Linked DNA regions of Homo sapiens. The protein of the gene in region 1 binds, or shares a complex with, the protein of each later gene. Each region holds a gene or a part of one and is shown on either strand. Other genes may lie near its edges. A codon is read from its position in the direction of its gene.

Region 1 (5,507 bases):
AGCTTACAGACTGCTGGTGGCTGCCGGCACTCCTTAGCGCTCCTTGGCACGTGGCTGCATCACCGATGTCTCCCTCTGCCTTCACACGCCTTCTTCCCTCAGTGTGTCCCCTCCTCTTCTGATAAGGACACCCAGTCCCTGGATTTAGGGCCTACCCTAAATGCAGTATGATTTTATTTTGAGACCCTTATGCAACCCTCTTTTCAAATGAGGTCCATTCTGAGATTCGAGGTGAATGTAAGTTTGGGGGAACACCATTCACCCCACTACTGACCTTTGGGGACATATTGTTTCTCACTTAGACACATGGATACACTCTTAAAGAATGTATTTGGAGCCGGGCGTGGTGGCTCATGCCTGTAATCCCGGCACTTTGGGAGGCCTAGGAGGGTGGATCACCTGAGGTCAGGAGTTTGAGACCAGCCTGGTCAATGTGGTGAAACCCCGTCTCTACTTAGCTGGGTGTGGTGGCGCACACCTGTAATCACAGCTACTCAGGAGGCAGAAGCAGGAGAATCGCTTGAACCCAGGAGGCGGAGTTTGCAGTGAGCCAAGATCGTGCCACTGCACTCCAGCCTGGGTGACAGAGTGGGACTCCATCTCAAAAAAGCAAACAACAACAACAAAAAAGAACGTATTTGGGATCATTGTTTTTAGATAGGGTGTGTTTTTAAAATTTAGTATCAGTCATTTAACATTCACGGGCAGTTTTCCATGTTACTCTCTTTGCAGCCCTCGTTTTTATTGTCCTGCCATGCGAGTGGCAGATGGCCTCATGGTTGGGAGTGGGGGCTGCAGAGCCTGCCAGGGCTGGCCTTCCGCCCTTCTCTTTTGCTCACTGTTATGGGCTGAACTGTGCTCCCCTCCCTAATCCATATGTTGAAGTCCTAATCCCCAGAATGTGACTTTATTTGGAGATAGGGCTTTAAAGGGGTAATTAACATTAAACAAGGACATTGAGGTGAGCTCTAACCCAATCTGACTAGTGTCCTTGTGAGAAGAGGAGGTAAGGACACACGTGCACCGGGGAGACCCTGTGAAGACGCAGGGAGAAGGTGTGGTCTACGAGCCGAGGACAGCGGCCTCAGGAGAAACCAACCCTGATGGCACCTTGACTTGGACTTCTAGCCTCCAGAACTGTGAGGAACCCCTAAGCCCCTCGTTTCTTCCTCTGTCAAATGGGGGTCTTCAGAGCGCTGGAGGGAGAACTGAATGAAAGAATGCCCACACGCTGCCCAGCGCAGGGCTGGAGGGCACTGCAGCCGCGTTGGTACTAGCCGGGTTCATTTCCCCAGCCTCTGCTGCTGCACAGCGCACGATTTCTCTTCAGCCACTGGTAAACACTTACTGGGCCCCAGTCACAGCTCTTTTCCCTGTGATAGATGAGGCTCTGGCCAGTAGCTGGGCACACGATCTCTGGCCACTTTCTTGGAAGAAAGTTTTAGGTGCATTCTCTTTTTTTTTTTTTTTTGAGACAGGGTCTGGCTCTATCACCCAGGATGGAGTGCAGTGGCGTGATCTTAGCTCACTGCAGCCTCAACCTCCGCGGGCTTAGGTGATCCTCCCACCTCAGCCTCCTTAGTAGCTGGGACTACAGGTGGGTGCCACCAAGCCCTGCTAATTTTTATATTTTTAGTAGAGACAGGATTTTGCTATCCGCCCGCCTCAGCCTCCCAAAGTGCTGGAGTTTCAGGCATGAGCCACCGCACCCGGCCTTAGTTGCATTCTCCATCCTCTAAGTCACCTTTGCTGAGCCCCGTCCCAGGAGCACCCTGTTGCTGTGTGCTCCTGAGCCAGGCCCAGGGGGTCGTTGGCCGGTGGCAGTCAGAAGTCTGCCCGTGCACCCCATGTAAAGCAATCAGGCTTCCCACAGCCCAGGCGCACGAGGGCTTTGGGGGCGACATCCTCTCCTTTCTCCAGCCTGTCTGGGTCCAACAGCCACAGCTGCCTCCCAGTCACTGCAGCAGCACGGGAGATGGGCAAGGGCTCTCAGAGGAGGAAACCTCTGCCTGAGGGACTTCTGCACTCGTGGGGCATTTCACACCTGCCCCAGTAGGGAGTGGCCCTTATGCTCTTAATAAATAGTTCGCAGCCCCCTCCCCTCAGGCTTGCTGGCAGCCTTGGGATCTCGGGATCTCGGGGTCGAGTCCTGCCAGCCCGGTGCAGCCCCTGAGCTTCCTCCCAGCCGAAGCAGCCTCCTTCCCTCCCCCTCCTCCTCTGCCCTGGGTGCCCCCAGCACCGGCCTTTTTTCTTCTCTACTTTGAAGTCTGAGCCTCAGAGCCACTACAGGCAAACAGGATGTTCCTCTCCCACATGCAGACTTCACACGAGACGCTTGGGTCGCACCGCATCCTGCTTAGAGTGGTGGGTCCCATCTGCGTGGACCTGGGGTGGGAGTGGGTACAGGACTGAGGCTGGGTGCCAGGTGGGACCTTCGTGCAACTGGTTTCATTAGTCACATTTGAGCGTTCATTGCAGACTTTGAACTAGGTGAGCCTCTGAAAGTTTCCCCTTGGGGACTCTTGTGCCTGGAAGGGCTGAATAAGGCAGATGGTGACGCTTGCTTAGCACGTCGGTGGGAGGCCATGAAGGAGTAATGGCGTTTCTCATCCCCCACCTCAGCCCTGGCTATGATTTTTGTATTTTCTGGGATTAAAAAAAAGTTTGTTTTTTTTTTCTGTAAACCTCAGCAAATTACAATCACACCTGGAATTACAGGATGGCTACAAGATAGATGACTGCTCTAGTGTGGCACAGGACAGGGGCTTAAGGAGGCAGGGTCTTGCTGAGCAGCTGGAGGACTCGGGCAAGACTAGAAGGGCACCAGGGGATGGGCAGGCGCTAGTTTAACAGTTTAAAGAAAACCTAAAGTCCCAGGTCTTTCTCTGGGTTGTGGACTCTGTTTATAGCACAGTGACTCAGGCAGTTCTGCTGTGGTTGAAGCCATCTTGGGAAGATGAAGGTGTAAAATTTGAGGGTTCCAGTTCCCTCCTGAAGCACCTCCCATCCTCCAAGCAGATGTTCTGAGTCCTTTGAGTCCCTCAGATGTTTGTTTTATTTTTAATTTTTATTTTATTTCTTTTTTTTTGAGACAGAGTCTCACTCTGTTGCCCAGGCTGGAGTGCAGTGGTGTGATCTCAGCTCACTGCAGCCTTTGCCTCCTGGGTTCAAGTGATTCTTTGGCCTCAGCCTCCTGAATAGCTGGGACTACAGGTGTGTGCCACCACGCTCGGCTAATTTTTGTATTTTTAGTAGAGACGGGGTTTCACCATATTGGCCAGGCTGGTCTTGAACTCCTGACCTCAAGTGATCCACCTGCCTCCACCTCCCAAAGTGCTGGGATTACAGGTGTGAGCCACCGCCCCCAGCACCCTCAGATGTTTAATTTACAAAATAGTGTATGTGTGTTGGGAGAGGGCAGCCTTAAAAGATGTCAGGGTTTTACCATCCACTTGACAACCCCGCCTGGCAGTCAGTGACATTCTAGACATCTCTGGAACTTTCCACTTGGTTGTTCCGTGTACCAGGGTGAACCATGTGGATTTTTAGTTGCAGAGTGTACTGCGAGTTAAGTGGAAAGGTCTGAGAGAGAGAGAAATGAGGGGTGGGAAAGAGATCATAGCCCTTGACAGCTGGAAAAGGCTTTGTGCTTCTCTTTCTCTGCCCCTTTCCTGGGGCAAGGGAGGAGGGCAGATGGCACAGGATTGGGTAGCAGTGGGGGAGAATGAATGCTGGTCACAAGGACTGTGGCCCAGAAAAGAGGTTCAGTGGCGGCCAGAGGAAGCTACTGTGCCTGGGGACAGCCCTCTGAGCACCTGCCATGCCGGCGGGGGCAGCCGTCTAATCTGGGGCACTTCAGCTCTGTCGGGTGTCCTCTTCGCTCACCTGACATACCTTAGAGTTGTTTCATTCTAGGGATGTGCTCCCCAGCCTGTCTGATGGCACAGATGTTGGCATTCTGCAGCTGGCTGCTCTATTCTTTATTTGGGACCTGTTCCCTTGCTAAGATTATAGTTTTGCTGCCCTGCCCTGCAGTGAGCACGCCTCATTTTGACTCCTGGTACAATAATAGGTTTGTTTGAGATCTCGGATGCCAGACTTACTGGGAGTCTTAACAATGCTGGCATCATATGATATGTCAGTGATCTTTTTAACACCACTGTCTCTACAGAAATGGTTTCTATTCGGCTGTCTCAAGCTCTTGGAGAAATACATCCTTGTCTTATCTAGGCAAATAAAGTGGAGAGTCTTGAAGGACTTCTTGGTACAAGGGTCTGAATCAGTGCTGTGTGAATCTATATTTCCGTGGAAAATAAAGGCATATTTGTTCATGTGACTGTCTATATATTCCATTGAGATTATTGCATAATGACCAAAAATCTCCAGGAAATCTGCCTTGTCTAGCAGATGACTTATTTGAGCTTTCTTAGTGTGTTCTTTGCACATGTTAGTATTCTTTGGCACATGGTAGGTATTAATACATATCTGATGGGATGATTTATGGCCTGGATTAGCCTCAGCCTTCAGACTCTTTTTTCTTTTCCTCCTTAGATCTTTAATCTCATGAAGTACGACAGCTACAGCCGCTTCTTAAAGTCTGACTTGTTTTTAAAACACAAGCGAACCGAGGAAGAGGAAGAAGATTTGCCTGATGCTCAAACTGCAGCTAAAAGAGCTTCCAGAATTTATAACACATGAGCCCCCAAAAAGCCGGGACTGGCAGCTTTAAGAAGCAAAGGAATTTCCTCTCAGGACCGTGCCGGGTTTATCATTGCTTTGTTATTTGTAAGGACTGAAATGTACAAAACCCTTCAATGGGATGTGTGTTTTATTAACTGCTTCACCAGTAAATTTTGCATGATGGCTAAGCTAACATAAAAAAAGAATAATAATAACTTGGAAGTTTTAGTTTACAAAACAGAGATTCCTTCAACACTGGACACGTCGAGCATTTTGTAGCTTAATTAAACCTCATGTAAGGCCACAAGGTGAAACGTATCACACTACCTTTTACCTTGTAAGTGTTTGCTCTGCCTCTCTGGTGAGTGGACGCATGTCCACAGGTCACTTGGTAAATTAACTCAAACATGAGTTGATCCGGCAAACCCAGGCTACTGGGGGTATGGCCTGCCAGTCGCCTTTTGGGTTAAATATTTCTCGAGAGCAAGTTCAGTGCTGGAAAAAGAAAATGAATCACTGACAGCCTCTAAAGACTTGGGAAGCTTGTGTGTGAGTGTCATCAAAGGGTTATTATTTCTTGTGCGTGGGTTGGTCCTGGTTTTGACCACAACCCATGACATTTCATGCAACACAGATAAATAGTTCATCTTGACAGAAACAAGATCTCAACCAGGAAGGAAAAAAAACACAAGTGGGAAATTGTTCAGGGTCCCCATGGCAACTCAAGGTGTTGTTGAATGGGATTGTAGCACAGGTGCGTACTGAGGTTGGAGTTGGTGGGGCTGTTCCCTTCTCCTGTACCCATCGGGGACACATCATAATCCTTT
Region 2 (7,104 bases), on another chromosome or scaffold:
CAGCCCTTCCTCCTACCTCCTCTCCCCCAAAAATTACAAAAATGAGGACTGACACTCAACTTTATCTTATTGGTGTTTGACTTATTTCCGTGAATGCCATTTAGTGCTGCAAAACTTGTTGGTTTGTCTTTTTCATTAACTTAATCCACTTTTACTATTTGCTACTGACCTATCATCCTTTATTTCTTTTTCAGAACCGAATGCATGAAAGCATGAAACTGTTTGACAGCATTTGTAATAACAAATGGTTTACAGAAACTTCAATCATTCTCTTCCTTAACAAGAAAGACCTTTTTGAGGAAAAAATAAAGAGGAGTCCGTTAACTATCTGTTATCCAGAATACACAGGTAAGGGGTTATGAAAGATTTTATTGGAGGTACACATCTTACTTAGATCAACACTTTGGTGGCATTCATAAAACTGCCTTTTTTTTTTTAATGATTGATTGGGAGAGTATTCAGTGGTAGTGGCATTGGCATTAAGCCTGTGATTAAAAGCCCCTAAGTCAAGAGTGCCATATCAGACACAATTGAGTTTTCTGTGTTTATTTTAAATTTCTATCTTCATTTTTTGAGGAAAATACAAAAGGAGAAAAAGTAAATTTGGGAGCTGGGCATGGTGGCTATAATTCTAGCTACTTGGAAGCTTGAGGCAGGAGGATCATTTGAGCCCAAGAGTTTGAGATCAGTCTAGGCAACATAGTGACACCCCCCTGCCTCACAAAAAATAAAGTAAAATTTGGTATATGTTGAAGAAAATACAAGGGTAAATTTTAATCATTGTGCCCAAGAGACTGACATGTAGTTGCAGAGAGACATAAATAATTTTATTATAGTGTTTAATTGCACATAAATAATTTTATTATAGTGTAAAATATGCATTAATAGAAGTGGAATAGAAGTGGTTACTTCTGATGGGGTCACTGTAGTCTTTTTCTAGAGCTACTAAGAGGATGAAATAGAAATCATCAGGCAGACGGGAATAAAAGCATTTTAGAAAAGAGGAATTGCATATATGAGAATATGGAGGTAGGAAAATGGTATGACCAGTTGTGGAACCCAGAAGGAATTTGGTATTACTAGAGTTTACAGTGGCAGGGAAGAAGTGGTTGGAGAGATGGTCAGAGATCAACTCATGGAGGGCCTTATATCTCATGCTGAGACGATGATCAGTTAAAGGTTTAATATCCTACCATGATCCATATCATGGGGTGCATGATATAGAAGAAACTGTGCTTGAGAAAGATTATGCAATAAATAATAAAGATAGATAGTAGGGGATTTGAATTAGTAAGAACTCAGGATGGAAATAAAAACTTTTGATGGGGATTAAGGGATATATCATAGAACCCAAGGGCAAGAATGGACAGGTCTTAGAATGGAATTAGAACTAGGAAATAATTGTCAGGAACCCTGGAAGCACTCTTTATCCCCATCTTTTTTCTCTCCTCTCTGTGTATCTTTTTTATTATTCTTTCTTTCCTAACCAGCTTTCTCTGCTATTCAGTTTATGTGATAACAGCCTAGTCACAGTTTCTGTATCTCTGGTAAAAAGATCAGACTAGGCTGGGCGCGGTGGCTCACGCCTGTAATCCCAGCACTTTGGGAGGCCGAGGCGGGTGAATCATGAGGTTAGGAGATCGAGACCATCCTGGCTAACACAGTGAAACCCCGTCTCCACTAAAAATACAAAAAAAATTAGTTGGGCTTGGTGGCAGGCACCTGTAGTCCCAGCTACTCGGGAGGCTGAGGCAGGAGAATGGCATGAACCCGGGAGGCAGAGCTTGCAGTGAGCCGAGATCGCGCCACTGCACTCCAGCCTGGGCGACTGAGCAAAAAAAAAAAAAAGATCAGACTAGACTGGGATTGCTTGGCCTTGGTTTCAAATTCCAAGGAGAGAGATTCTGGCCGTGGTTAAGTCAGGCAGAAATCTGTAGGCCAATCAGTTGAGGTCAGGGGCACAAATGTAACTGCCAGGGATGGATCACTATGAAACTTATAGATCAGAATCAGGTATTTCCAGAGAAGGGGAACTCTTATTAGCAGAGACACTGTAAATGCTTTCTATAATAAAGTGAGGCTGGGTGCAGTGGCTCATGCCTGTAATCCCAGCACTTTGGGAGGCCGTGGCAGGTGGATCATGAGGTCAAGAGATCGAGACCATCCTGACCAATGTGGTGAAACCCTGTCTCTACTAAAAATAGAAAAATTAGCTGGGCATGGTGGTGTGCGCCTGTAATCCCAGCTACTCGGGAGGCTGAGGCAGGAGAATCGCTTGAACCCGGGAGGCGGAGGTTGCGGTGAGCCGAGATCGCACCACTGCACTCCAGCCTGGTGACAGAGTGAGACTCCATCAATCAATCAATCAATCAATCAATCAATAAAGTGAAGGGGTAAAGCAGGGGTAAGGAAGTGGGAAGAGTCAGAGGTACTCCCAGGTTTCTGTCTTGGATGCTGGTGCTGTGACCTGAATTCATGTATAGGAATGTTGATTTTTAATTATTCATAGAACGTTGAAATAATATCTCATGGACAGTTATATTCGAGGTTGAGGAGAGGTTGGGGTTTGAGATCATCAGTAGTGAAAACATGGAAATGGGTGAAATGACCTATGGAGATAATATTATAGAATGAGGAGAAAAAGGACCACAGGTAGAACGAGAGAGAATAGCAGCCTCTATTGGCAGGAGAGGAAGAAAGATATCATAACCAAAAGGAGAGGTTAAAAAGTGAGTTGATTAAATATTTCAGTCAACAGTGTTATCTGCAGATAAGTAAGATACATACTGAAAAAGAGCCTTTGGAGTTAACAGTTAGGAGGTCGTTGACCTGCTGTTGAGAGCAGTGTCAGTGGAAAGTTGAGTACAGTGAGTTACAGAATGGAAAGTGAAGAAAGAAGACAAGTGTAGACTACTCTTGAGCAACGTGGGTTTAAAGGGAAGGGAGAGATTTAAGAATGTTTATAGGCTGAGGGCTAAGATCCTATAAGCAAAAGAGATACATTAAAAAACAGATGTAATTGAAGGAGCAAGATTTGCAAGCAGGTGGGAAAAAAGGAATTAAGAGTCTAGGTAGGATAAATGGATAAACAAATTGTGTTATATACATACAATGAATATTACTTACCCAAGAAAAGGAATAATAATAGATGGTACAACTTGTATGAAACTCAAAACACTGTGCTAAGTAAAAGAGGCCAATACTTCTATTATATGATATATCCAAAATAGGGCAATTTCTGTCCATAGAGACAGAAAGAATATTAGTGGTTATGAGAAGTGGGAGAATGGGAAGAAAAGGGAGTGATTACTTAATGGGAATAGGGTGTTGAAAAAGTTTTGTCACTAGAGAGAGGTGGTGATTGCATAACATTGTGAATACACTAAGTGCCACAGAATTGTACACTTTAAAATGGTTAAATATCTGTTATGTTAATTTTCCTCAATAATTTTTTTAAAAGAGTATAGGTAGAGCAATTGATTTTTGAGCAAGAAGTAAGACACCTCTAAGACCAGAAGTACAAATAAGTGCAGATATGTAACATTTTGAGTGAGGTGGTAGGCCAAAAAGTTGAGATGTAGTTTAATCCTCATGGCCTCTGTTTTATCAAGGAAGTTGGAAATGTGGTTACCTGTTCAGAGTAAAGAACAGAGGGAGGTGAGAATAAGGTGAGTTTATAGAAAGCAACCAAGTTTTAGGATTGGGGGAGAGAGATGTAAGACAAGTAAAATAATTGGCATTAATGTTGAAGGCCCAGCTTAGAGTCTTCACACAAAGCAAAGAGCCTTTAATATCATTTCCATTTTCTTTGTTGTTGTTAACTTCCAAGCCTATCCTCCATTGTCTTCATTCTGTGTACAGATTCTTACGGTCCTTATTTGCCAGGTATTATTATCTGTTCCTAGCAGACAAAATTCACTTTTCACTCATCTGCCTCCTTTAATTTACAGAGGTTGTTTTCCAGATTTTAAGAACCTGCTTCAAGCACCTACAAAGCTGTTTTCCTTCAGTTCTTTAAATATTTTAATTAATATTCTTTTCCTTTCCTTTTTTTTTTTTGAGACAGTGTCTTGCTCTGTCTCCCAGACAGAAATGCAGTGGCATGATCTCGGCTCACTGCAACCTCCACCTCCCAGATTCAAGTGCTTCTTGTGCCTCAGCTCTACTACAGGTGCCCACCACCAGGCCTAGCTAATGATTTTTTGATTTTTAGTAGAGATGTGGTTTCACTAAGTTAGCCAGGCTGGTGTTGAACTCCTGACCTCAAGCGATCCACCTGCTGCGGCCCCCAAAGTGCAGGGATTACAGATGTGAGCCACCGCACCCAGCTCCTTTTTTCTTAAGCTCCGTTTTGTTACCTGGTCTTCTTTATATCTTTGTTATTGATATTTTTGTTATGCTTCACGTTACTGAAAATAGCCTGTAGTTTATTGGAATAATGAATTGTCTTTGTTGCGTTTCCCTGGCTTTATAGCCAGTTTCTAAGGCTACTCTAAAGGTTCTATAAGTAGACAAGATGGTGTAAAAAGCAGGTGATTTAAGGGTATTAATTACAAATATTGTTGAGACAGGCTTTGCTTTTGGTTCCTGTCACCTTTCTTTTTGTAAAAAATAATAGCTTCATTGAGATATAATTGGGAAACCCTAAAATTCACTCTTTTAAAGTGTATTGCTTTTCCTTATTTAAATTATTACCTTAAGGCTTTGAAGCTAAACCTCTTTAAAACTGTGGAATGATTTTGAAAAGAACAATTTACCTTGTTGAATTCCTTTTTTTTTTGTTTTAATACAAACAATCCCATAGCGTTTATTGCCATCTTTTAGTAACATAAGGGTAATCAAAACACTATGAATGAATGTTCATATTGGAAAAAGGACATCTAAAAGCAAACTGTATCCTTCTCAACAATTTCTCACTTCATTGATCCTTTCTAGTTGGAGACACTTTGTAGCAGAGTAATATTATCTCCTTTTAGCATGATCCGACCCAGTTGTTTTAAAAAATATGGAACGCTTCACGAATTTGCGTGTCATCCTTGCGCGGGGACTGTGCTAATCTTCTCTGTATTGTTCCAATTTTAGTACATGTGCTACCAAAGCAAGCACTACCCTGTTGAATTTTTATTCCAAGATCACTCCAAGGAACACAGCCTCTCTCAGACCTTTTAAGCAGTTGTGTTCCCTAGAAATGCACCTTCCTACTTTCCTAGTTTCCTTTTATACTTTCTAGATTTTTTTAGCTGAAAAGTCTAAATGAAAAGGTAAAGAGAAATTTAACGTTATGTTTTCCTCAATCTTTGTGTTTGATGATTTTATTTTGTTACCATGAGAGTCCACTCTCACGAAGAACCTAATTATAGAAACACCTAATGATTATAGAAATAGAGAATTCTACTCATATTTAATTGGGTTATGTTCCCTCTCCATAAGTAAATGGTAATGGTCTGACTTAGTTGAGTTCAGGCAGCTGTTACAATTTGAACTGAGAGTACTGGGTGTCCGTTTTAGGTTCCAATACATATGAAGAGGCAGCTGCCTATATTCAATGCCAGTTTGAAGATCTGAACAGAAGAAAAGATACCAAGGAGATCTATACTCACTTCACCTGTGCCACAGACACGAAGAATGTGCAGTTTGTTTTTGATGCTGTTACAGATGTCATCATTAAAAACAACTTAAAGGAATGTGGACTTTATTGAGAAGCATGGATGTTAGTGAAAGGTAAAGTTTCATACAAGGTAGTTATAGTGCTACAGTGATGTCTCTTGGTTTTTAAACTTTTTCTAATTAAGAATATTCTTCTCTTCTAGTTACTACAGTGTGGAGTGTTGAGACCAGACACCTTTTGCTGTCTCATGGGGCAGCTACAAGCATGAACGGGACCAGGGAATGGCAGCAGCATGCAGAATCTTAGCACTCTTTAGCACAATATTTTGTATTAGGGAACTTTTAATTGACATGAGATGCTAAAGTCAGACATTGGAATTGGAAGAACTATAAAGTGTGATTCGATCGTCAAGACATCACTTGGATTTCTTAATCTTAAATGCTTATGGAAGATGTGAAGTTGAGGTGCTGCATTCTAGAACTTCAATATGTAGCTTACTCTTTTTTTCCCCCCTTCTTAAACCACCAGTGGTTCATTTTTAAGGTTTTTTCATCAAGAGAAGAATAACTTTACTAAATTTTATTTCTTTATTTGCAAAAGAATCTTTATTAAAACAAACAATCTTAACTATGCACATGATGTGACCAGATCATCTTGAAAATATTCCTCTTTAGTAGGAACTCTTTGTTTTTAACTCTTGGTATGGTCAGAATATAATACTTCCATAATTACTTATAATTCTTTCCGGTTACTGGGGCTATAAATACAACTTTTTAAATGAAATTTATGTTATTATCCTGCTCAAAGTACCATTATGGTTTCCATATGGTAATTACATTGGAAAGTTCTGCAATAAGATTCTAGTTCTCTCTTTTCTTTAAGCTTATGGTTGAAGGTTAACCTTGTTTGTGCAGATTACCAAATTACTGCTGATGTAGTATGATAAAGTCAGCTTCTTGGATACAGACACACCCAGGGCAGCTGCCAATCAGAAATGCAAATTGCTAAATTCCAAACAGAACCAGTGACTTTGCTGCTACATATTTACTAAATTGACCACTTTGATTCTTGCTTGTTTGTCTCAGTTATAGGGAGTTTTGTACATGGTGCCTCTTGTTTTCCATCTTCATGGCCTTTTCTGTTGAGAAACATCTAAAGTGTATTAACAGTGCATGCTTTTACTTTGTAAATGTGGTGCCAAATCCCTGTTTGCCATCGTTTTTACTGTACCGATGTTAACTGTAGTAATCCTTAGCCAGTATGTTCTTTTGCTGAAACTGTTGCATTTTGGGACTTTTTTCCACTTTGTCATGTGTACATTTTTAATCTGTTATAGTTGGCGGCAGTATTAAAATGGTGAGTAAAGAGCCCAGGTTTGCTCCTGTTTGTAACTAGTCTTTTCTGGAAATACTGTCTTCTGTTTCCTTTTGCCTTTGCAGAATGTGCTTTAGCCTTTGTCTGAGAATGGGTTTAGGTAGAAGGGTTTCCTGAAAGTC

The links.
Region 2: the proteins of RGS10 (region 1) and GNAI3 are in contact, whole or in part, in a crystal structure (PDB 2IHB), measured with the Homo sapiens proteins. Residues at the interface, in NP_001005339.1 of Homo sapiens: Glu62, Phe63, Ser64, Glu66, Asn67, Ala102, Ser103, Ser104, Gln105, Val106, Asn107, Val108, Glu109, Gly110, Leu137 (codon at 4,561), Lys139 (codon at 4,567), Tyr140 (codon at 4,570), Asp141 (codon at 4,573), Ser142 (codon at 4,576), Arg145 (codon at 4,585); in NP_006487.1 of Homo sapiens: Val71, Val72, Ser75, Glu115, Val179, Lys180, Thr181, Thr182, Gly183, Ile184, Val185, Gln204, Ser206, Glu207, Lys209, Lys210, His213, Ala235, Glu236.

The regions. Positions count from the first base shown.
Region 1 is NC_000010.11:119,499,304-119,504,810, reverse strand, and holds the end of RGS10 (regulator of G-protein signaling 10), read left to right. Parts: intron 1-4,551; coding exon 4,552-4,698; 3' UTR 4,699-4,994; downstream 4,995-5,507. UniProt on the Homo sapiens protein: Regulates G protein-coupled receptor signaling cascades, including signaling downstream of the muscarinic acetylcholine receptor CHRM2.
Region 2 is NC_000001.11:109,586,535-109,593,638, forward strand, and holds part of GNAI3 (guanine nucleotide-binding protein G(i) subunit alpha-3), read left to right. Parts: intron 1-194; coding exon 195-348; intron 349-5,508; coding exon 5,509-5,699; 3' UTR 5,700-5,721; intron 5,722-5,810; 3' UTR 5,811-7,104. UniProt on the Homo sapiens protein: Heterotrimeric guanine nucleotide-binding proteins (G proteins) function as transducers downstream of G protein-coupled receptors (GPCRs) in numerous signaling cascades.